Regions from separate parts of the Homo sapiens genome. Here regions 1 and 3 are each reported to be linked to region 2. Evidence: microRNA targets listed by miRTarBase, many of them from high-throughput screens and not tested one by one. Region 2 holds a microRNA gene; each other region holds the end of a gene's coding sequence.
What was found. Region 2 holds the annotated microRNA hsa-miR-552-5p (GUUUAACCUUUUGCCUGUUGG, at 4,909-4,929, opposite strand). A microRNA usually pairs through its seed, bases 2 to 8, with sites in the 3' UTR of a target mRNA and lowers its output. Matches are read on the target gene's strand: a 7mer-m8 pairs with bases 2 to 8, a 7mer-A1 pairs with bases 2 to 7 and ends in A, and an 8mer does both.

Region 1: the mRNA of NSMF is a reported target of hsa-miR-552-5p. The part of its 3' UTR that is shown has no 7-base or 8-base seed match.
Region 3: miRTarBase lists MAGEA12 as a target of hsa-miR-552-5p. Seed matches in the 3' UTR shown: 7mer-A1 at 971-977.

Annotation. Positions count from the first base shown.
Region 1 is chr9:137,443,089-137,450,209 of GRCh38, forward strand. NSMF (NMDA receptor synaptonuclear signaling and neuronal migration factor) reads right to left here. Exons shown (of 16, transcript NM_001130969.3): 13 at 7,088-7,121; 14 at 6,835-6,937; 15 at 6,511-6,586; 16 at 4,482-6,403. The coding sequence ends at 6,306. MIR7114 (microRNA 7114) reads right to left here and starts at 6,998; the gene lies at 6,938-6,998. RefSeq lists an enhancer at 6,181-7,121.
Region 2 is chr1:34,664,742-34,671,862 of GRCh38, forward strand. MIR552 (microRNA 552) reads right to left here and starts at 4,953; the gene lies at 4,858-4,953. The region is part of intron 1 of LOC105378641 (a long non-coding RNA gene); the gene reads right to left.
Region 3 is chrX:152,736,575-152,743,695 of GRCh38, forward strand. It overlaps MAGEA12 (MAGE family member A12), which reads left to right. Exons shown (of 3, transcript NM_001166387.4): 3 at 1-1,095. The coding sequence ends at 532. It also overlaps the pseudogene CSAG4. Among named protein-coding and RNA genes, the nearest start is that of MAGEA12, 6.4 kb to the left of the region's middle.

The DNA.
Region 1 (7,121 bases), not on the chromosome of region 2:
TTGCTAAATTTATGTGACTACAATTATTCATAGTACTTCCTGGTTATCCTTTTAATGTCTGTAGGGTCTGCAGTGCTAACCCTCCCATTCCTCATATTGGTAATTTTGTCCTCTGTGTCTCTCATCAGTGTTGCTAGCTAGAGGTTTATCCATTTTATTCATCATTTCAAAGAACCTGCTTTTTGTTTCATAATTTTTTCTTTTTGGTTTTTGAATTTTTAAATTTAATTTAATTTAATTTAATTTTTTTGAGACGGAGTCTCTCTCTGTTGCCCAGGCTGGAGTGCAGTGGCCGGATCTCAGCTCACTGCAAGCTCTGCCTCCCAGGTTCACGCCATTCTCCTGCCTCAGCCTCCTGAGTAGCTGGGACTACAGGCATGTGCCACCACGCCCAGCTAATTTTTTGTATTTTTAGTAGAGACAGGGTTTCACCGTGTTAGCCAGGATGGTCTCGATCTCCTGACCTCATGATCCGCCCACCTCGGCCTCCCAAAGTGCTGGGATTACAGGCGTGAGCCACCACGCCCGGCCGGTTTTTGAATTATTTTAATTCTGCTCTTACTTGTATTTCCTTTCTTCTGCTTGATTTGAGCTTATATTGCTCCTCCTTTTCTGGTTTCTTAATGCAGAAGGTTAGATTATTGACTTGAACCTTTCTTTTTTTCTAATGTAAGCATTTGTGCTATGAATTTCCCTCTTAAGCACTGTTTAGCTATCTCTCTCAATTTTTGATATGTTGTATTTTCATTTTATTCAGTTAAAACATATACATATATATAAATTTTTTTTTTTTGAGACGAAGTCTCACTCTGTTGCCCAGGCTGAAGTACAGTGGCACAACGTAGGCTCACGGCAACCTCTGCCTCCCAGGTTCAGGTGATTCTCCTGCCTCAGCCTCCCCAGTAGCTGGGATTACAGGCATGCGCCACCACACCCGGCTAATTTTTTTGTATTTTTAATAGAGACAGGGTTTCACCAGGTTGGCCAGGCTGGTCTCGAACTCCTGAACGCAGGTGATCCGCCCACCTCGGCCTCCCAAAATGCTGGGATTACAGGCGTGAGCCACCGGGCCCAGTGGCAGGATCATAGCTCACTGCAGCTGTGAACTCCCTGGCTCAAGCAATCCTCCCTCCTTAGCCTCCCAAGTAGCTGGGACCACAGGCATGCACCACTGTGCCCGGCTGATTTTTGTTTTTGTTTTTGTTTTTAGTAGAAACAGGGTTTCACCATGTTGCCCAAGCTTCTCTCAAACTTCTGTGCTCAAGTGATCCATCCGCCTCGGCCTCCCAATGTGCTAGGATGACAGGCGTGAGCCACTGGGCCCAGCCTTTGCTGAGACTTTCTCTTCTGACATTTTAAGTGCTCACGATGGCTCAGTTAGGCACCGCTATAATAGCTACTTTAAAGTCTTCAGGCCGGGCATGGTGGCTCACACCTGTCATCCCAGCACTTTGGGAGGCCAAGGCAGGAGGATCACTTGAGGCCAGGAGTTCAGGACCAGCCTGGTCATTCCAGAACCACCACTGGGGGGCATACGTGTGACTAGACCAGAGGGTGCCCCAAAATCTTGGAGAAAAACTGACCTTGGACCAATAGCCACTGAGGCTGAAACTAAAACAGCAATGTTCACCATAGGATAAAAGGAAGACTCCGAGTCTCATATTAAGTAAGATTCAAAACATTACAAACCAGGCCAGGCGTGGTGGCTCATGCCTGTCATCCCAGCACTTTGGGAGGCCAAGGCACGTGGATCACCTGAAGTCAGGAGTTCGAGACCAGCCTGGTCAACATGGTGAAACCCCTGTCTCTACTAAAAATACGAAAAATTAGCCAAGCGTGGTGGTGGGTGCCTGTAATCCCAGCTACTTGGGAGTCTGAAGCAGGAGAATTACTTGAACCCGGAAGGTGGAGGTTGCAGTCAGACGAGATTGTGCCACTGCACTCCAGCCTGGGCAACAGAAAGAGACTCTAAGAAAAAAAAAAAAATTACAAACCAGAATTCCTCCACACCCAAAGAACTGTGAGAATCCTGACCAGCAGGGAAGAGGCCATCAGCAGACACCAAGGTTGAGAAGGCGTTGAAATGACAGAAAGACTGACAAAATCTGTTTTTTAAAATTTTACTCATTTAAAAATTTTTTCTTGAGACAAGGTCTTGCTCTGTCACCCAGGATGGAGTGCAGTGGCGTAATCTTAACTCACTGTAGCCTTGAATTCTCGGGCTCAAGTGATCCTCCTGCCCCAGCGTCCCAAGCAGCTGACACCACAGGCACGCACCACCACCACACCCCATTAATTTTTTTTTTACTTTTTGTAGAGACAGATATTCGGGCGCCCCCAGTCTAGCCACACGTATGCCCCCCAGTGGTGGTTCTGGGAATGACCAAGGTTGGCTGCTGAAGTCAGTTGTCTGGGTGAGTCAGAGTGAGACACACAGACACACTCACAGGCACGCCTGAGGGTTGGGGGGCGTTGGGGGTGGTTTTTGGGTACTTCTCAGCTCCTGGGCTCCCCAGACCTCCCTTCCCAGCCCTCAGGCCAGAAAGCAGGGGTGACAGAGCGCACAGAGACGTGGGAGATTTGGCAGCGGGAGGGGAGCTGACCCGCCTGCCTGCAGGCACCAGGACAGGTGCAGGGAGCCATCGGGGCCATCTTGCCCCTTTCAGGGACAGGTTTTATGTTTGCTGTCTCCTGCCCCCACAGAGGCAATGCTAACAGCAAGGGTGTGACCGCCACAGCTCCCTCCACCATTCCGATCATGTCTACATTATTGATTCCTGCTCACGGGGGTTTTACCTTACAGACAGGAATCACACCTCTGCTTGCCCTTAGACACTCCTGCACCCTGGCGGGAGGTCTCCACACAGCCCCCAGACCACACCCCAGGTCTCAAGGGTGGCTGCTCTGCTGGGTGCACATCCGGCCACGGGGCCACCCGGGGGGCCACTTGGGGTTGTGTAGTGAGCGTGGAAGTGCAGACCTGGGGGTCTGCACTTGAGAGCAGGGCAGGCAGGTCGCTGGGGCAGGCGGGGGCCTCCCCCGTGCTGTTCCCAGCCTGCCAGGTAGTCACGAGAGTGCATCCAGGCAGGTGGCAGGAGACATTGCACATCGATGTGAAGCGTGACCCAGTCACTTGGAACAGCTGGACCTGTTGCATCTTCCTCCTTAGCAATAAGCCTCGTGAGCATCGGATCCTTCCAGAAAAGCCATTGTGCGATCGGGCCACACCCAGATTAGCGGGCACAGCACAGCGGGGCAGTAGACACCCTCAGAAAAGGTGCCAGGGGGCGGCTGGGGCTGGACGGGCTTGTGCACTCATCAGTCACACTACTTTTAAGAGCTGTTACCAGATTACCTTAAAAAAAAAAGCTGTAACAGGCTGAGGAGGCAGGAGGATTGCTCGAGGCCAGGAGTTTGAGACTAGCCTGGGCAACAGAGTGAGACCCTGTCTCTACAAAACATAAAAGAATTAGCCAGGCGTGGTGATGCCTGTAGTCCCAGCTACTCCGGAGGCTGAGCGGGTGGGAGAATCGCTTGAGCCCAGGAGGTCAAGACAGCGGTGAGCCCCAGCCTGCGCGACAGATCAAAACCCTCTCAAATTGAAAAGGGGGTTACCTCGTCGCTTTCATTGGCCTTTCCATGATTCCTGATGGGATGAGGACTTTCTTCATGGAATTACCAGCCAGTTTCCTGCTCTGCGAATGATTTCTCCACATCTCTGCTCACTTTTCCATATCGGTTTTTGTCATTTTCTTTAGCAACATATAAAAACTCTTTAAATATTAAGGACCTTAATCACTCCCATGTGTGGCAAATATTTCTTATTTCTTCCCCAACTATTTCTGGCTGCTGCTGTTTTTGTATTTCAAGGGAGGCGAGGGCGGGTGCAGCAAAGTAGCCGAGGTTGCCCTGGTCACCGGCCCCCCGCCCTGGCCCAGCCTGCCTCCACTTGGGGCCACCTCCTTCCCCGTTGGCACTTCTGCGTCTGCTCCTGTGGGGCCACCTCCTTCTATGTCTGCTCCTGGGCCTGCTGGCTTTGACGTGTCTTCCTCCTTTCACTTCCCCCGGTGGTCATGGCATGAGGAATGGAACCTCATGGACCATACATAAGGCCCCCCAGGCCTTACTCACTCCAGCAGACCCTACGGACCGGACTGTGTGGGACAGGCATGCGGCTGGCAGCAGCCCCAGGAGCCACCTGACGGGTTAGGACTGCAGGGTCCCTGTGGCTGTTCTGGGTCTCAGAGCTCAGGTGACGGACAGATGTGCCTTTGGAGCAGTGCAGTGTGTGGGCACGTGGCGACCTCGCATGCTGTCCTACTTTGAAGAGTGCCACCCTTGAGGCCTGCACGGCAGCGTCAGCAGATTCCAGGCGGTGGCGACTTGTCTCATCAACTTTGCAGAAAGGAGACTCGGATCCCCCATGATTTCACGATATGTCACTTTCAAATAGTAACTGAATAACACAGAGTCTACAGGCATTTGGTATTTACCTAAAACTTTATACACTCAAATTGGCACCAAAACCTGCCCCCTCCCGGGACCCCATCTAGAATGCCCTGGAAGAGCTGGAGGTGGCTGACGGCTGTGTGACCACCCCCAGCACACTGGGCCTCAAGCCTGCCAGGCTGTGCCAGGCTGCGCACCAGTGGCCCCCTGACCCTAGCCCAGCTGATACGTGCTGCTCTGTCCCCCAGCCACGGGGCAGGGAACCAGCTGGCAGCCAGCCTGGCTGTGCCCAGCAGCGGTCTGGGCCCTGAGGACACCTGAGGTTGAGAGAGTGGCCCCCATCTGTGGCCACACTGCTGACTGCACACACAGTGTGGCGTGAGGGACATACAGCCCTCTCCCTGGTGCCCTCAGGCGGCAGGGGGAACGGGCTGTCTCTGCTGTCCCCTCCAGACCCGGCGAGGCCCCCCTCCGAGACTGCAGCCTCCCCCCAGCCCTCCTGCAGCTCCTCTCCGTCCCCTCCTGTGCTGGTCCCCCTGGCTATGCCCTGTGGGGTGGTCTAGTGGCCTAGCTCCAACTCTGTCCAGGCAGGAAGGCCCTGCAGCAGTGACCTCACAGGAGTGGGCCCAGAAGCTGGGCACAGGAAGGCCCCTGGAAAGCACTGAGAGGACAGACCCACGCGGCGGCCGCGGTGGAGGATCAGGTTTAATGGTCACTATGAGGGTATCGTACATCGTTCCAAGCCCGGCCCCCGCCCCAGCCCTCCCTCAGCTGGGAACACAGCCAGGTGCCCTCAGACCCCTGGCTCTGCACAAGGGGGGCCTGCCCCCTCGCCCCAGCTATATACACGACAGCCCATCCTGCTGGCCGTGGACAAAAGCTGGGAGCTCCTGTGCCCAGTCAGGAGCCCCTACAGTCCACCAGCTGCGCGGCCGGGTCCAGGGGCCCACTGTGGTGCCAGCGAGTTTCTCAAAACCCAGGGCCCAGCCCCAGCTGGGCCCCTGCCAAGCCCCAGGCCTGTGTGCTGGGATGGAGCCTCCACACTGAGGCTGGTAAAAGCTGAACTCAACAGCAGCAATGAGAGTGCTGGGTGGGCTTGGGGGGATGGGGAGCAGGCCCCACCCAGAGCCTCCTCTGAAGGAGGGGACGCTGCGCCCTTCCTTCCTGCTGCCCAGACTGCCCCTACCGGGTCCGGCGCCGGCTGAGGTCTAAGTAAGCAGGGATGGGGGGTGGCAAGAGGAGTGTAAGTGAAAGCACAGACAGTCGGAGACTCGGCCAGTGTAGACAGACCCAGAGACTCGGCCAGTGTAGACAGAGCCAGGCTGGGCAGCCCGGCGACGCTGGCCCCACGCACACGGGCCACCCTGGTGCTGGTGATCGATACGGCAGGGAGGGGGTGGGCAGGGAGGGTCCTGAACACATGTGGGCTGCTGGGCTGCTGGGCCGGGGTGCCTACACTGTAACTAGCAGCATAGTGCTTAACTAGTTAACAAGAAATGCTGCTTCCCTTTGAATTGTTTCGGGGGTGTAGAAATTGCACTTATTTCTATGAACCCCATGGAGGGATGCCCACAGCTGAGCCTCCAGGCGAGGCATGGCAGGTCAGTGCCTGGCCGCTGAGCATCCACGGGCCACAGGGCGGGATCCTCCCGGCCCCCAGGGACTGCAGCCTCTGCGGCCACGGGTGCAGCGAGGACCGGAACCCACAGGGGGAACCTGAGCAACGTCTGAGGTGCCCTGAAGTGGCTCCAGGCGAGACCGGAGCCACACAGTCCCGGGGAGCACGAGGCGGCCCAGCCCCAGGTCCCGGTGCAGAGGGAGTGGCCTGATGGTGACTGGGCGGAGGCCTCTGCCCCTCACAGGACGTCGTCAAAGTCCAGCAGCTTCGAGTGCTGGCGGCTCTTCCACAGGCGATACAACCGGAAGTCAAAGTACGTCTCGATCATCTGCTTCCCTGGGCGGAGCGGGGGCAGGAGGCTCAGGCCTGGCCGGCCCTGGGGATCCCACCCCACCGTGGCCCCGCAGTGGCTGCAGAGCTTCGGCCCAGCCTGGGTAACTCACCTTGGGCTGAGAGCTCCAGGGGTGACTCGAAGGTGACCCTATAAGGAGTCATGAGGGTCCTGAGGTTCTGGAACAGCTGGAGGAAGCGGGGTGCCATGAGTCCGAGGCAGAGAGATGGGGAAGGAGGAGCGGGGAGGAGATGGGGAGCAGGGCCCACCCTCTTTTTTCAGACCCCCCAAACCTGGCTGGGCTCAGGCATAAAGGATTTCTAGGGGAATGCCCGGGGGAAGGAAAAAAAATGCCAGGAAACATGGAAGGCTCTGCCCTGTCTGTCCACGTCGGGGGTTTCCAGAGGTCTGGGGTGGGGCTTGGGGGTCACTGTACCTTCTCTCCATTGGGGTTCCCCAGAATGTAGCAGCCCATGATGTGGATGACGTTCGGCTCTGGGTTCACTTTGCTCATCAGGCGGCTCAGCCGCTTCCAGAAGCTGGTGGAGAGGGGTGGGTCACCCAGTGGCAGGGGACAGGCACCCCACTCCACAGAGCGGACCGTGGAGGAGGGGCTGTGGGGGAGGGACATGCCAGGGCCTGGACTCTGCCTCCAGCCCTCCCCGCGCCCAGGGCACCCGGCTTCTCACTGAATCATGTCCTCTTCCTTCTCCACTTTGGCAA
Region 2 (7,121 bases):
TGTGATGCTGGAGACACTGCTGCCTTCAGAGAGCTCCCAATATGCAAGAGCCTCACAGTTCACAATGGAGGCATTGGTCCAGACCCCTTCCCTCTGACTCATCCATCCCTCAGTCCTTGCTCTTTGCTCCAAGCCTATCTGTGTCGGGCTGCCAATCTAAGGTGACTCAGGAATATCTCAGGTTGAAGACACACTCCCTCTTCTTCCCATCCCATGGGGCTTTCTGACTCCAGGCTTTGGGGAAACAATGCTCACTGGGACCTCATCTTCTCTGTCCCATGTAATTCCTGAGATATCTGCTCATCAGGCTAGTGTCCAAGCTAGTTCTGCTCCATGGAGAAGCCTGACTTTTACTCATGATTGTAGAGAAGCATCGAGAGCTCATTCCCATGGCCTACCCTACAAAGAGAAGGAACAATAATGAGAGAACACAAGTAATCAATCAGCATGAGAGCAGATTTCTTGTTGGCATTTATGTTGTCGTTATGTTTTCTTCATGGCAGCAAGGTTCTACAGTGGCATTTCTAAGGCTAATGGAAGAACATGGGGTTGAAACAAAAATACTAGTCTTTGGGGCTCTGAGGCTCCAGGGATTACTGTCGTTTTATTCAGAGTAGCTCCCCTCTTATCAGTTTTATATATTGTGGTTCCATGTGAAATGTTATTTAAAAGTGGTTCTTCCAACTAGACAAAGATTTGAGAACCACTGCTGCTCTGCTTGCTACCATATACAAGTCCTGTGCCATCACTTAAAGTGCATTATGTGACATTATAGATGTCCGTTGTCAACTTGGTGTCACCATCACATACATCATGCCACATGCCCTAGTATCTAAGTGAGCATGTCTTTTGATTTTATATTCAGTTTGTTTATAGCATGTTTTTCAAATTACAAAAGTAACACATGTTTGATTATAACAACTGAAACATACAATAAAAAGATGGTAAATTGTAGCGCCAGTCCCCACCCATGACCTCTCCTCTGATGTAAGCAGTGTTAATATCCCGTTATGTAACCTTCAAGTGGACATCTATCATGAACAATTTCAGCTGTCTCTAAAATTACTGATGCAAGAATCTGTCACCTACGATAGCAATTGGTATGAGCAAGGCAAGATATGAATATATATTTCTTGTTTTCATCCACAAGTTAACTAATTTCCAGAGGCTGTCTGGGTTTCCAACAAGGAAGAGCAACCATAGTTGACCAGTGACCATGCAGTCTAAGTGGACCAACAGATGGAAAACCCTGTCTCTGAGAGGGGTGCCCACGGTCACAATTAATGTGGGGCTATAGTTCTGGGATCGAGCAAACATTATATGTATGAGGCTGTGAGCAGTGTTCATGCACCTGGATCTCCAGGTGCTTTTTCAGAGATGGTGAAGGCTTGTGATTACGGTCTGGGTGTAAATCCCACTCTGCCATTTTTTGTGAGTGGTCAATTCACCTCTCTAAACCTCAGTTCACTCGTCTAAAAACTGGAAAGAAGAATAATACCCTATGTATCAGTCAGAGTCCAGTCAGAAACACTGAAGCCAATTCCACATAGTCCAAGTAGGAAGGGCTTTAATGAAGGGAATTAGAAGCTTCTACAGCTGTTAGAAGACCTGGGAAAGAATAGCTGGGGAAGCCACCACTGAGCACCCAAGGACACCAGTACAGCAGGCATCCAAGGTCTTACCCAAAACCCCTGGGAAGCTCTGCTGGCCTTCTCAGGCTGCAGCAATGAAGCAGGTAAAACTCAAGTGGAAGGTGCTTCAAACCTCATGTCTGCCTATTTATCTACCTACCTGCAACTAATTCTGGAGAATCACAGCCTCGCCACCTTTCCTACTTTCCAAACCTTCCCTAAGCACCTCTTTTGGCAGACTCAAACCAGGAGCCATATGGCAAAAGGCATTCTGGGAAATGTAGGTCTCATCTCCTCTTCCACAAAGCAAGGGACACCTGATGACAGGTGGTGGTGATGCCAGATGAACAATCAACAACCTAGCACAACCTACTGCATAGGCTTTTTATGAGATTAAATGCAATAATGCAGAGACAAAGTCTTAACAAAGTGCTTGGTGCACAGTTAATGCTTAATAACTGGCAGTTATTATAATTCTTTTTATAATTTTGATTGCAGAAATGGTGGCTTTCCACCTCGCCCAGCACACTCACTCCATTTCATGCTACAGAAAATCCTAGGCATTGGGGTTCCTGTCAAAAGATACATTTCCCATTGTCTCACACCACTCAGCAGGTCCCATCACTTCTTTTTCCGATCCGATTATAATGGCAACATTTGTAAATTGCTGAACCTCTAATTCCCCATAAGCATGTAGCCTGACTCAATGTATTCAAATCAATTACACAGAAAGGCATGAACTAAATTCTCTACTTCTGTATCCTGGTTTTACATTTCATAGTGATTGTACTTGAAATCACCACCAAAAAAAGAGCATTATGCTACAGGTGTGTCTTCTTCATCATAAATCAATCAAGGCATGAGGAGATCCAATAATAACCCTATTTATGAACAAGCAGTTCTAGCCTCACAATTACTATCACCAAACATTTCAGAATAATGAAACGTTTCCAATGAGAATTAATTTAAAAAGACCAAAATGCATGCAAACTTACTTCCATGAAACTTAAATTCAAACCATCCCATGGGTAACCAAATTATACTTGTAAAGAACTCAAATTGATTGGACTTCAAAATTCAAAATTCAATTGTAGAAAATAAAATAGGTTATAAACCGCAAAGGCCTTTGCCAAGCCATCCCCTGCTCTGAAGCACAATCCAAACATCACATGGTCACACGTCAGTGCTGCCTGCAAAGAAATCCATTTTACAAACAAACTTAGGGTAATAGGACCCAGATCTGTAATGCCTTATCCTGATTAATGACGGACCCACACACTGTTATATCCATGGTCACCAAGAGAAAAGCTAACATTCTTGGAAGCAGCATTACTCTTAAAATTGCAATAATCTCCAGGGAAAATAACCCAATTTAAACTTATTCCCTCTTTAGCTAGAATGTGTTTAACTCTTTTAAACTTGTTCTTTGCTGTTACCTGTGTCCTTCAAAGACATGCCCCTTGTTATTCTACGTAACTCCCTTCACTCAGACCTTCAATAATTGCAAAAGCAATTTAACCCCCAGTTTACCATGATACTATTAAAGAGTAAAATAGTCAGTAGCCCAAAGAAATTCTTAGGAAGCCAACACTTTCAATTGGCATGCTTTTTTTAGACCCTAAATTCATATGCATAAATATGCATTCGTTCAGTCTGTCAACCCACGTCTAGGTAATGGTTGAATAAGTTAGAGGAGCTCTCTGACGTCAGGGAACTTACATTCTAGTCAGAAGAGGCAGATACATGAATCAACAAACAAGACCATTCAGGATGCATACGCATTGATCTGAAAGTCTCTTCACTTCACTTGCCTGAGCTGAGGTGGGACCACAATCTTTGAAGAACCAAAGAAGGAGAGTTCTCAGAAGAGGTTATAGCAAGTGCAAAGGTCCTGTGGCAGGAAAGAGCTTGCCAGGCTCAGGAGGTGGAAACATACATTGCCAAATACAAATACACACACAACATATACACCAACACACACCAAAGACTTTCTACAAGGTTTCATTAAATACTGAGTGGGTACAAAAGATATTTATAAAACATGTCTGCTGTACAAAGAATAACAATAAAGGGAACATTCGTGTATCCCACCATCCAGTTTAGAAATGAAAGCGTGACCATCAAGCATGACCTCTTTGATCTGATTGCCTCTCTTCGTAACCCAGAGAAATGCTAATCTGAATTCATTCTCCAATGTTTTTTTTCTTTATCACCTTATATCCTGAACAATATATTGTTTAATACGTTTTTGATCTCTAAGACTAGAATCTTGCAGTTATGTAGGTTTGTATGGCTTGGGGTTTTTGTAGCCAAGTCAAAGCTATGATAAATTTGTTTCTGAAATTTTTGAGTGAAAGAGTTAATAATTTTTAATTAGAATTTGTTATTGAGATAATTATAAATTCATATGCAATTCTGTGTACCATTTATCCAGTTTCCCCCAGTGGTAACTGATATGGTCTGGCTGTGTCCCCACCCAAATCTCATCTTGAGTTGTAGCTCCCATAATTCCCACGTGTTGTGGGAGGGACCCAGGGGGAGATTATTGAATCACGGGGGTGGTTTCCCCCATACTGTTCTCATGGTAGTGAATAAGTCTCACAAGGTCTGATGGTTTTATAAGGGGAAACCCCTTTCACTTGGTTCTCATTTCTCTCATATCTGCCACCATGTAAGACGTGCCTTTCACCTTCTGCCATGATTGTGAGGCCTCCTCAGCCATGTGAAACTGTAAACCCATTAAACCTCTTTTCCTTTATAAACTACCCAGTCTCAGGTATGTCTTTATCAGCAGCATGAGAAGAGACTAATACAATAACATTTTTAAAACACTAGTACAATATCATAACCAGGATATTGACATGATACAGCTCACCAGTCTTACCCAGATTTCTCCAATTTACTTGTATCATTTGTGGTCTGTGTGTGTGTGTGTGTGTCCATCACTAAAGTCAAGACATCAGCCAGTCCATCACCATGAGGATCCTTCATGTTGTGCCTTTATAACCACCTCCCTCCACCTCACCACATTCTTAACCCTCAACAACCACTAATCCCTTCTCTATCTGTAACATTTGTCATTTCAAAATGTTATATAAATGTAATCATACATATGTAGCCTTTGGCATTGACTTTTTTCACTCATAATAATTCCCCAAAGATTCATCCAAGTTGTTTGTAATCAATAGCTTGTTGCTTGTTTATTGCTGAGTAGTATTCCATCCTGTGTATATACCACAGTTTGTCTAACCAGTCACCTGTTGAAAGGCATCTTCAACCAACAGGCAAAAGGTTAAACAAACTGTGGTATATTTGAATGGTTAAACAAACTGTAGTATATTCGACTATTACAAATAAAGCTGCTGTGAACACTTGGCTATTGCAAATAAAGCTCCCCAGGTTTTTGTGTGGACATAAGTTTTTATTTCCCTGGGATAAACACCTGAGGGCGCTACTGCTGGGTCATAGGCATGCTGGGTTTTATAATTAGCTGCCCTCTGTTTTCTAGGCTAGATCTACAATTTTACATCCCATCAACAATATATGAACAAGCCTATTTCTCTACATCCTTGCCAATGTTGGGTGTTCTCATTTTTTTTTTATTTTAGCAATTCTGATAGATGCATAGTGATATGTTATCATGGTTTTAATTTGCATTACCCTTATGTTGAACATATTTCATGGATTTTTTTTGCCATTTGAATAACTTACACTATGGAATATCTATTCATGTGTTTTGCCCATGTTCTAGTAGATTACTTGTTTTCTTTTTACCATTGAGTTTTGAGAGCTCTTATATAATCAAGATTCTAGTCCTTTTCAGGTGTGTGATTTGAAAATATCTTCTCCTACTCAGCAACTTGTCTATAGCTTGCTTTTTTACCCAAGATTATTGTCCTCAGTTTTATCTATGCAGATGGATTTTTTTGGTTTTGTTGCTGTATCATTCTACTATTGTTTTGTATTTTGCTGTATCATTATACTATTGATGGACATTGCTTATTGTTCTGCTTTCACAAGCCATGTTACCATGGGCTTTCTTGATGTGTCCACTGCTGCACCTATATAAGTTCTCTAAGGTATAGACCTAGTAACATTTCTGGATCACAGGGTATGTGCATTATTAATGTTATTAGATAATGCTGAATTTATGCCAAAGAAATTTCATCACTTAGAACTGCCACCAGCAGTGTAAAAGTTCCTATTACTCCATGCCTTTGCTAGCACTTGATCTTATCAGACTTTTTTTCAATTTTAACAATGTAATGGGCATATAATGATATCTATTTCATTTGTATTTCCCAAGTTACAAATAATCATACAAATAAATACAAATAGTTCCTTTACTTCCCTGGTGAAACTGAATATTCAGTCTAGACATTCAGATTTCCTGTTTCATTAAGTGTCTATTTAAGTTACTTTGCCCATTTTCGTATTGAGTTGTGTATTAGTCTGTTTTCACACTGCTATAAAGATACTACCTGAGACTGAGTAATTTATAAAGAAAGGGGTTTAATGGACTCACAGGGAAAGCCTCAGGAAACTTATAATCATGGCAGAAGGCAAAAGGGAAACAAGGCACATCTTCAAAAGGCAGTAGGAGAGGGAGAGAGAAAGAAGGAGAAAGAGCCACTTATCAAACAACCAGATCTCATGAGAATTCACTCACTACCACGAGAACAGCACGGGGGAAACTGGCCCCCTTGATCCAATCACCTCCCACCAGGTTCCTCCCTCTGTTGGCAGTGGCCGCTGCCATCATGCAGGCTGCAGCAGGGAGGCACCACCCCAGGGCTGCACACTCCGTGAGGCAGGCAGGAGCTGGTGACAAGTGGGAGCCCCACCCCTTTTGAGTTGGCAAGGCGGGAGTTCCCTAGGTGCAGCTGTGGCCACCCTCCCAAGCGCAGGACCCGAGAGTCTCTGCAGTCTTCACTCTTGGGGGCCTCAGAAGTCCCCCCCAACCCCCTGGCCCCACAGGCTCTAGAGTGTCTGCTCCTGCTGCCTGGCCTCTCCACTCCTGGCACCCTACTCCAATCTTGGAGCCAGGTTGGGGCCTATCCTGGGCACTGGCACAGCCTGGCCAGGTGTGCACATGCTTGGGGCAGTGCTGACATGCCAGTACCCTGCTACCTCGGCCTCCTCCAGAATTTGGGCAAAATGAGCATGAGAGGAGAAACTGAGGGGGAGGGCTGAGGGTGGCTTGGCACTGGCCTGCAGGTGCCTTTTGGTGCAAGCAGCCTGGGCACCATAGGCACCATGGATGGCAGCAGGAGGCAGACAGGCTCCTGGATTGAAGGGAGTGGATCCCTAGTAAGGCCCTACCTTTAGGCCAGGGATGGCCTGAAGGCTGGGGGCTGAGCAGTAAGTCCCGCAGATCAAAGTGGGGACTTGCAGTGCCTTTCAGGCCTGCCCATGGCCACCCATGGACCAACTGACACACACTTCCTCCCCTCTGACATCCGTAAAAGCCCCAGGCTCAGCTAAAGCAGG
Region 3 (7,121 bases), not on the chromosome of region 2:
TGTCATCAGAAATTTCCAGGACTTCTTTCCTGTGATCTTCAGCAAAGCCTCCGAGTACTTGCAGCTGGTCTTTGGCATCGAGGTGGTGGAAGTGGTCCGCATCGGCCACTTGTACATCCTTGTCACCTGCCTGGGCCTCTCCTACGATGGCCTGCTGGGCGACAATCAGATCGTGCCCAAGACAGGCCTCCTGATAATCGTCCTGGCCATAATCGCAAAAGAGGGCGACTGTGCCCCTGAGGAGAAAATCTGGGAGGAGCTGAGTGTGTTGGAGGCATCTGATGGGAGGGAGGACAGTGTCTTTGCGCATCCCAGGAAGCTGCTCACCCAAGATTTGGTGCAGGAAAACTACCTGGAGTACCGGCAGGTCCCCGGCAGTGATCCTGCATGCTACGAGTTCCTGTGGGGTCCAAGGGCCCTCGTTGAAACCAGCTATGTGAAAGTCCTGCACCATTTGCTAAAGATCAGTGGAGGACCTCACATTTCCTACCCACCCCTGCATGAATGGGCTTTTAGAGAGGGGGAAGAGTGAGTCTGAGCACGAGTTGCAGCCAGGGCCAGTGGGAGGGGGTCTGGGCCAGTGCACCTTCCAAGGCCCCATCCATTAGTTTCCACTGCCTCGTGTGACATGAGGCCCATTCTTCACTCTTTGAAGAGAGCAGTCAGTATTGTTAGTAGTGAGTTTCTGTTCTATTGGATGACTTTGAGATTTATCTTTGTTTCCTGTTGGAATTGTTCAAATGTTCCTTTTAACGGATGGTTGAATGAACTTCAGCATCCAAGTTTATGAATGACAGTAGTCACACATAGTGCTGTTTATATAGTTTAGGAGTAAGAGTGTTGTTTTTTATTCAGATTGGGAAATCCATTCCATTTTGTGAATTGTGACAAATAACAGCAGTGGAAAAAGTATGTGCTTAGAATTGTGAAAGAATTAGCAGTAAAATACATGAGATAAAGACCTCAAGAAGTTAAAAGATACTTAATTCTTGCCTTATACCTCACTCTATTCTGTAAATTTGAAAAAAAAGCATGGATACCTGGATATCCTTGGCTTCTTTGAGAATTTAAGAGAAATTAAATCTGAATAAATAATTCTTCCTGTTCACTGGCTCATTTATTTTCCATTCACTCAGCATCTGCTCTGTGGAAGGCTCTGCGTTAGTAGTGCGGATGCTAAGGTAAGCAAGACTCACGCCTACCCGTAGGGTTGTAGAGCCTAGGACCTGCAGTCATATAATTAAGGTGGCAAGAAGTCCTGTAAGATGTAGAGGAAATATAAGAGAAGGGTGAGGGTGTGGGGTTCCAGGAGGGAGTTGTGGAGTGTAAATGCCCTGAGCTGGGGCATTTTGGACTTTGGGAACCTGCAGTTCCTTCTGAAGGAGCTGACTCTGATGAAGCTGGGTGGGTCCAGGGCCCACAGATTCTCAGTGAATGAGAGAAAAGCCTGGAATGGAAAGCAACTCTGAGTAGTTTATTTCGGATGGGGGATGAACAGAGAGGAATCTCCACCTGGGGCTGGAATAGAAGGTGTCCTGTGCTTTTGTCCCACTGCTATTGAACACAACCCAAGATCTAGGTGATGAAAATCTATCATCTGCAAGGGTTTCCTGAGCGATAAGGCTGAATTTCCCAGGAAGGGTGACCCAGAAGCCACTGGCCAGGTGCTTTTCTGCCAGGCAGGGAGAGCCAGAGCTGACTCCATTAAAAAGGCATTCTAACTAGGTTATCTCAAGTGCAATTTGACCAATTGTAGGCGTGGGCCAGATTTTGGATGGTAACAAAATGGATGAAAATAGTGGTTTGGGTGGGAAAGCAGCTGGGAGAGATGGAAGGAATTGGTCTTTGACACACATTCTAGGAGTTTTGGGTTGCACCTGGCTGGGCAAAACTCCCGCACACACAAAGTTTGAAGTGCATTCTCTAAGAGGAAATACTTAACTGAATTTTACAGGTGAAGCTTCCTTTTTGGCCTAATTATCCCATGTCCTGTTGAGCTGTATATTTTCTGATGACTCCTGGAGAACAACGACAACAACAACAAAGTCCCAGAGTGTTAATGCCTAGGCTTTAAAAATATTAGAAATAACAGCCATCGGCCATTTGTTAAACTTCTAATTTCCACCACGCCCGGAGTTTCTGTTGCTCCACATCTTCACTGGCAATTGGTCTTGGTTTTGTTTTGCTTTTTTATGGGTTTTAGACATTCTAATAGGTGTGTAGTAGTATCTCACTTTAGTACACAATTATCTAATGCCAAAGGACACTCAGTATTTTATTATGCTTATTTGCCCTGTGTGTATCTTCTTTTGTGTAGATTGTGTTCAGATCTTTGACTATTTTCATTTTTTCTATCATTGAGCTTTAAGAATTCGTATATATTGTAGAGACAAGTTCTTTATCACATATGTGTACCACAGATTTTTTCTGCTAGACTGTGGCTTGTTTTCATTCTCTTAACATTGTCCTTTGAAGAGCATAAAATTTTTATTTTAATAAAATCAACTTGGCAAATTTTTCTTTCCTTGATCATGCTTTTGGTGTTGAATTTAAAAACTCATCACCAAACTCAAAGTTATGTGGATTTTCTCTTACGTTTTCTTTTAGAGGTTGTATAGTTCTTGTATTTTTCATCAGGTCTATGATGTATTGAGTTAATTTTCGTGCAATATGTAAGGATATGTCTAGGTTATTATAATTTGTGTATAGGTGTCTAATTGTTCAGGCACCTTTTGTTGGAAAACCTGTACTTTCACCATTATTGCCTTTGTTGTGAATCACCTGACTATGTGTGTGCAGGTCTATTTCTGAGCTCTATTCTGTTTTATTAATCTATGTGTCTATTCTTTGCTAATGCTTATGTCCTCCACCAAATTCATATTTTGAAACCCTCAGCCCCAGGGTGTCAGTATTTGGAGATGAGGCTTCTAAGGTAGTAATTAATGTTAAAAGAGGCCATAAGGGTGGGAGCTTGATCCCACAGAATTAGTGTGATTGTAAGAAGGGAGAAGAAACAGAAGAAAGTACTTTTGTGCCTGCATGACTTCTCTCTCTCTCTCTCTTTCTTTCTCTCTCTCTCTTCCTCTCTCTCTCTCTGCACATACACAGAGGAAAGGCCAAGAACTGACAAATTAATAAAGGGCCATCTACAAGCCAGGAATAAGGCCATCACCAGAAGACAACCCCGCCAGTCCTTGATCTGGGACTTCCACATTTCAAAACTGAAAAAAGATAAATTTCTGTTGTTTCAGCTACTCAGTCAATGGCATTTTGTTATGGCAGCCTAAGCTAAGACATAACCTCAGGTAACACAATTTTTTTTGTTTTGTCCTAGAAAAAAAAAGCAATGTAATTGTGACATATAAAGTCTGTGGCTCATTTTGAGTTACATTTTTGTATGGTGCAAGATATGTGCAACGGCTAGTATTATGTGTCAACTTGTCTAGGCTATACTGCTCAGCTGTGTGGTCAAACAGTAGTCTAGATGTTGCTGTGAAGGTATTTTGTAGATGTGATCAACATTTACAATCAGTTGACTTTAAGTAAAGCAGTTTAACTTCCATAATGTGGATAGGCCTCATCCAATTAGTTGAAGGTGTTAAGAGAAAAGACCAAGGTTTCCTGGAAAAGGAATTCTACCACAAGACTAACATAAAAATGCGCTGTGAGTTTCTAGCCTGCTGGCCTGCCTTCACTGTCCTGGGGGAGGCATGGAGAGACCAGGTGGACTGGAGTAGACTGTTGAGAGACACTGGTCTGGTGAAGATGTCCAGGAAACCACGAGCCTCCAGCCCATTGTCCAACAACCACCCACCAACACCAAAGAGGTGAGGAAGTGGAAAGCATCCTCTCAACCCTAGCCCAGAAGCCCTATCAAAGTGAACGGCCCACCGAAGCTCTAAATCCTACCCTGTCCTCCCCTGGCACAACCCCCACCCCACCCTGCCCCATTTCTCTATGAAGCCCCTGTTCTCACCCCTTCTCCATCCTCTTCCCCAAACCAGTGCCCTTCTTTGATCTCCTGGTTGGTTTTCCAGGTTGCCAAGACAACCTGGAAGGGAACAGGGACCCGTCAAGGAAGTTCCAGGAACAAAAGGCTCTCCCTAAAAGACCACCGCTTCAAAAAAACCTGAGGAATGGAGTGGGCCAACACTATCCAGCCACTCCGACCAGCCAAAAGAACTCAATCAAAATGAGACACAGTAGGACCACAAGGGCAAGGAGACCACCACCTTCTCCAGTCTCTCTTTGGGCAGCCAGTAATTCCCGGGCAAGGCCAGAAACCTCAAGGCTACCTGAAAAGTCTCCAGAGGTCTAACCCCAGAAAAATAGCCAACAGGGTGTAGAGTACATTTTATACCCCAAAGGGTATACCCCATGGTGACGAAAATAAAATGAACATGTTGTAAAATGATGTGTGTGTCTGTGTGTCTCAAATGGTAGGGGTAGGGAGTAAGGGGGAAGAGGTGGGAGTGTGAGAAGGGAGGGAGGTGGGATCTTCTACAATTTCTTTAAATTCAACTTGCTCTTCGTTCTTTGGTTTCCTAGAGTGAAAGTTATGGTTATTGATTTTAGATTTCATTTTCTAATATAAACATTTAAAATATGCTATATATTTCCCTCAAGGACACACTTTAGCAGAATCCCACTTTTTGTATGTACATTTTTATTTTCATTCAACTTAATGTATTTTTAAAATTCTCCTGGGACTCCCTCTTTGACCCATAGGTTATATAGGAGCTTATTTTAAAATTTCCAATATTTGGGCATTTTTCAGATATCTTGGTGTTTGGTTTTGAGTTTTATTATATTATGGTCTAAGAAGAGGCTTTCTATTATTTCTATTCTTTTCAATTTGTAAGCTTTGTTTGATGGCCCAGAATACCATCTATCTTGGGAGATATTTCATGCACACTTGAGAGGATTGTTTATTCTGCTATTGTTGAATGCGGTGCTTTTCTTATTGTTTTATTTAGTCAGAGTAGTTAATGGTGCTTTTCAGGTCATCTATATCCTTCCTGGTTTTCTGCTTACTTTTTCTCCTAAGTACTGAGAAACAAATCAAAGAGTTTTGACAAACATTTAGTCCCATCAAACCACAACCACAGTGAAGGTGAAAAATATATTCATCCTCCCCAAAAGTTTCTTCCTGTCTGCTTGCTGTCAAACCATCTCTTCAGTAGAAGTGATCCAAGGTGAGCAGAAGTGAGCATCCGCTGACCATGACCATTTTCCCTGTTAACAAAGGCAGGTAGGCACAGAGAGCAGCAGTTGCTTTCAGACACAGGCAGTATCCAGGAGGAAAACCAGACCAATACTGTCATAGAAGGAGAGCTTTCTGGCCTGGACACAGGCTGTCTCTCCTTTTCTTGCACACTGCCAGTCCCCAAGTCTGGCTCTGCCTTCCTGGCCTCCCTGGCTCAGATGGGCGATTCACACCTCCTCACCATCTCCCCCCACTCCCTACAGACTGAATTAAGGGCTTTGCCACTTTCTATTGTTTTGTTGACTTGGTGTTTCCTCAGCATATATTGAATAAAAGTTTTCTGTAGGAATCAATAAGTGCATGGAATGAATGAAATCACCTGGCATGGGAATTCTTTGATTCAAATTATGGAGTCTGCCCTTCCTGGGCCTCCTGCCTACATGAAGAAACCCACAGTTCTTTCACTTGTGCTCACTTGAGTTCAGAAATTCCATGGCAACTACCACGGAGAGGGTCACTGCAGACACCTTCTCCCCAGGCTCAAACACTTATCATGGAGGTAAGGATGCTTCCAACAGGATGGTGCATGACGCTTCCTCTATTGGACCAAACACATCCCCATCAGTTTAACAGGGAAGGGTGCCAACTCCACTGCCTTGCCATCCAACCTGCTCACATACACAGCTTGGGCCAACCCTCTACCCCAGACCCTGTCTGGTGGCAACACAGGCCTGTGATCAGTGCCCCAGTACACCTGTCTCCTCATGTGCCGAGAGCTCAGAAGCCTCACGAGTCCATCTGAGACATGGTCACCACCTGGATCATTTTCATTGCATGTCCACAGCCAATCCTTCATCTACAGAGTAGGAGCTTACTAGTCTCAGGGCACTCTTCCTCCAACTTCCCCTCCATGCAGCCTTGCTGCCACCTTTTACACCTCATAAATATTCCTGGCCTGTCTTGGTTGTTGCTCATCAATCAGCAACCCATTCACATAGTCCAGGCTCTATGGAGGGTCCACAGGAGATAAAACAGGAGCCCGCAGCAGGCTTGAAGACAACTTCCTGCCCTGGGACGCTGGCAAAAGTGCACACGACCACTGGAGTGGTGGAGAGAGGGAGCTCACCCAGAATGATGCAGGGAGCCAGCCATACTCTTCGTGAGAGAGGGAAAGGGATTCTGAGGGAGGGTTGGGTGTCTAGCACAACCGTGGTGTATTCAGTCAACAGGCCTGCCCATTCAGATCACACGGCCCCCTCCAGCTGGTGACGATGGTGCTGGAATTTCCTAAGCCTATTCCTTTTCATTGTCCTGCCCTCCCTCCTCTCTTCCCCCTTCTCTCCCTCAGGTCCCTGCCCCCACCGGGCTGAACTCTGGATTCAGACCTCTGAATGCCAGCCTGCCTGGGGAAATGTGGACTTGGTTTCATATACGGTCTCTCTCATGGACTCTGGCCATTGCTCTCCCCTTGTATTTGTTCATTTTCATACTGCTATGAAGAAATACCTGAGACTGGGTAATTTATAATAATAAAAAAAAGAGGTTTAATGGACTGACAGTTCTACATGGCTGGGAAGGCCTCACAATCATGGCAGAAGGGGAAGGAGGAGCAAAGATATGTCTCACATGGCAGCAGGCAAGAGAGCATGTGCAGGGGAACTGCCCTTTGTGAAAACATCAGATCTCCTAAGACTTATTTACTACGGCGAGAACAGCATGGGAAAAACTTATCCCTGTGATTCAATTACCTCCCACCTGATCCCTCCCATGACACGTGGAGGTTATGGGAGCTACAATTCAAGATGAGATTTGGGTGGGGAAACAATCAAACCATATCAGTGCTGGATCCTCCCGATTACCCTCATGGGCTGAGGGTGTCCTGTCTGCTCTCCTTCCCTGGCTCCTGTTCATTCTG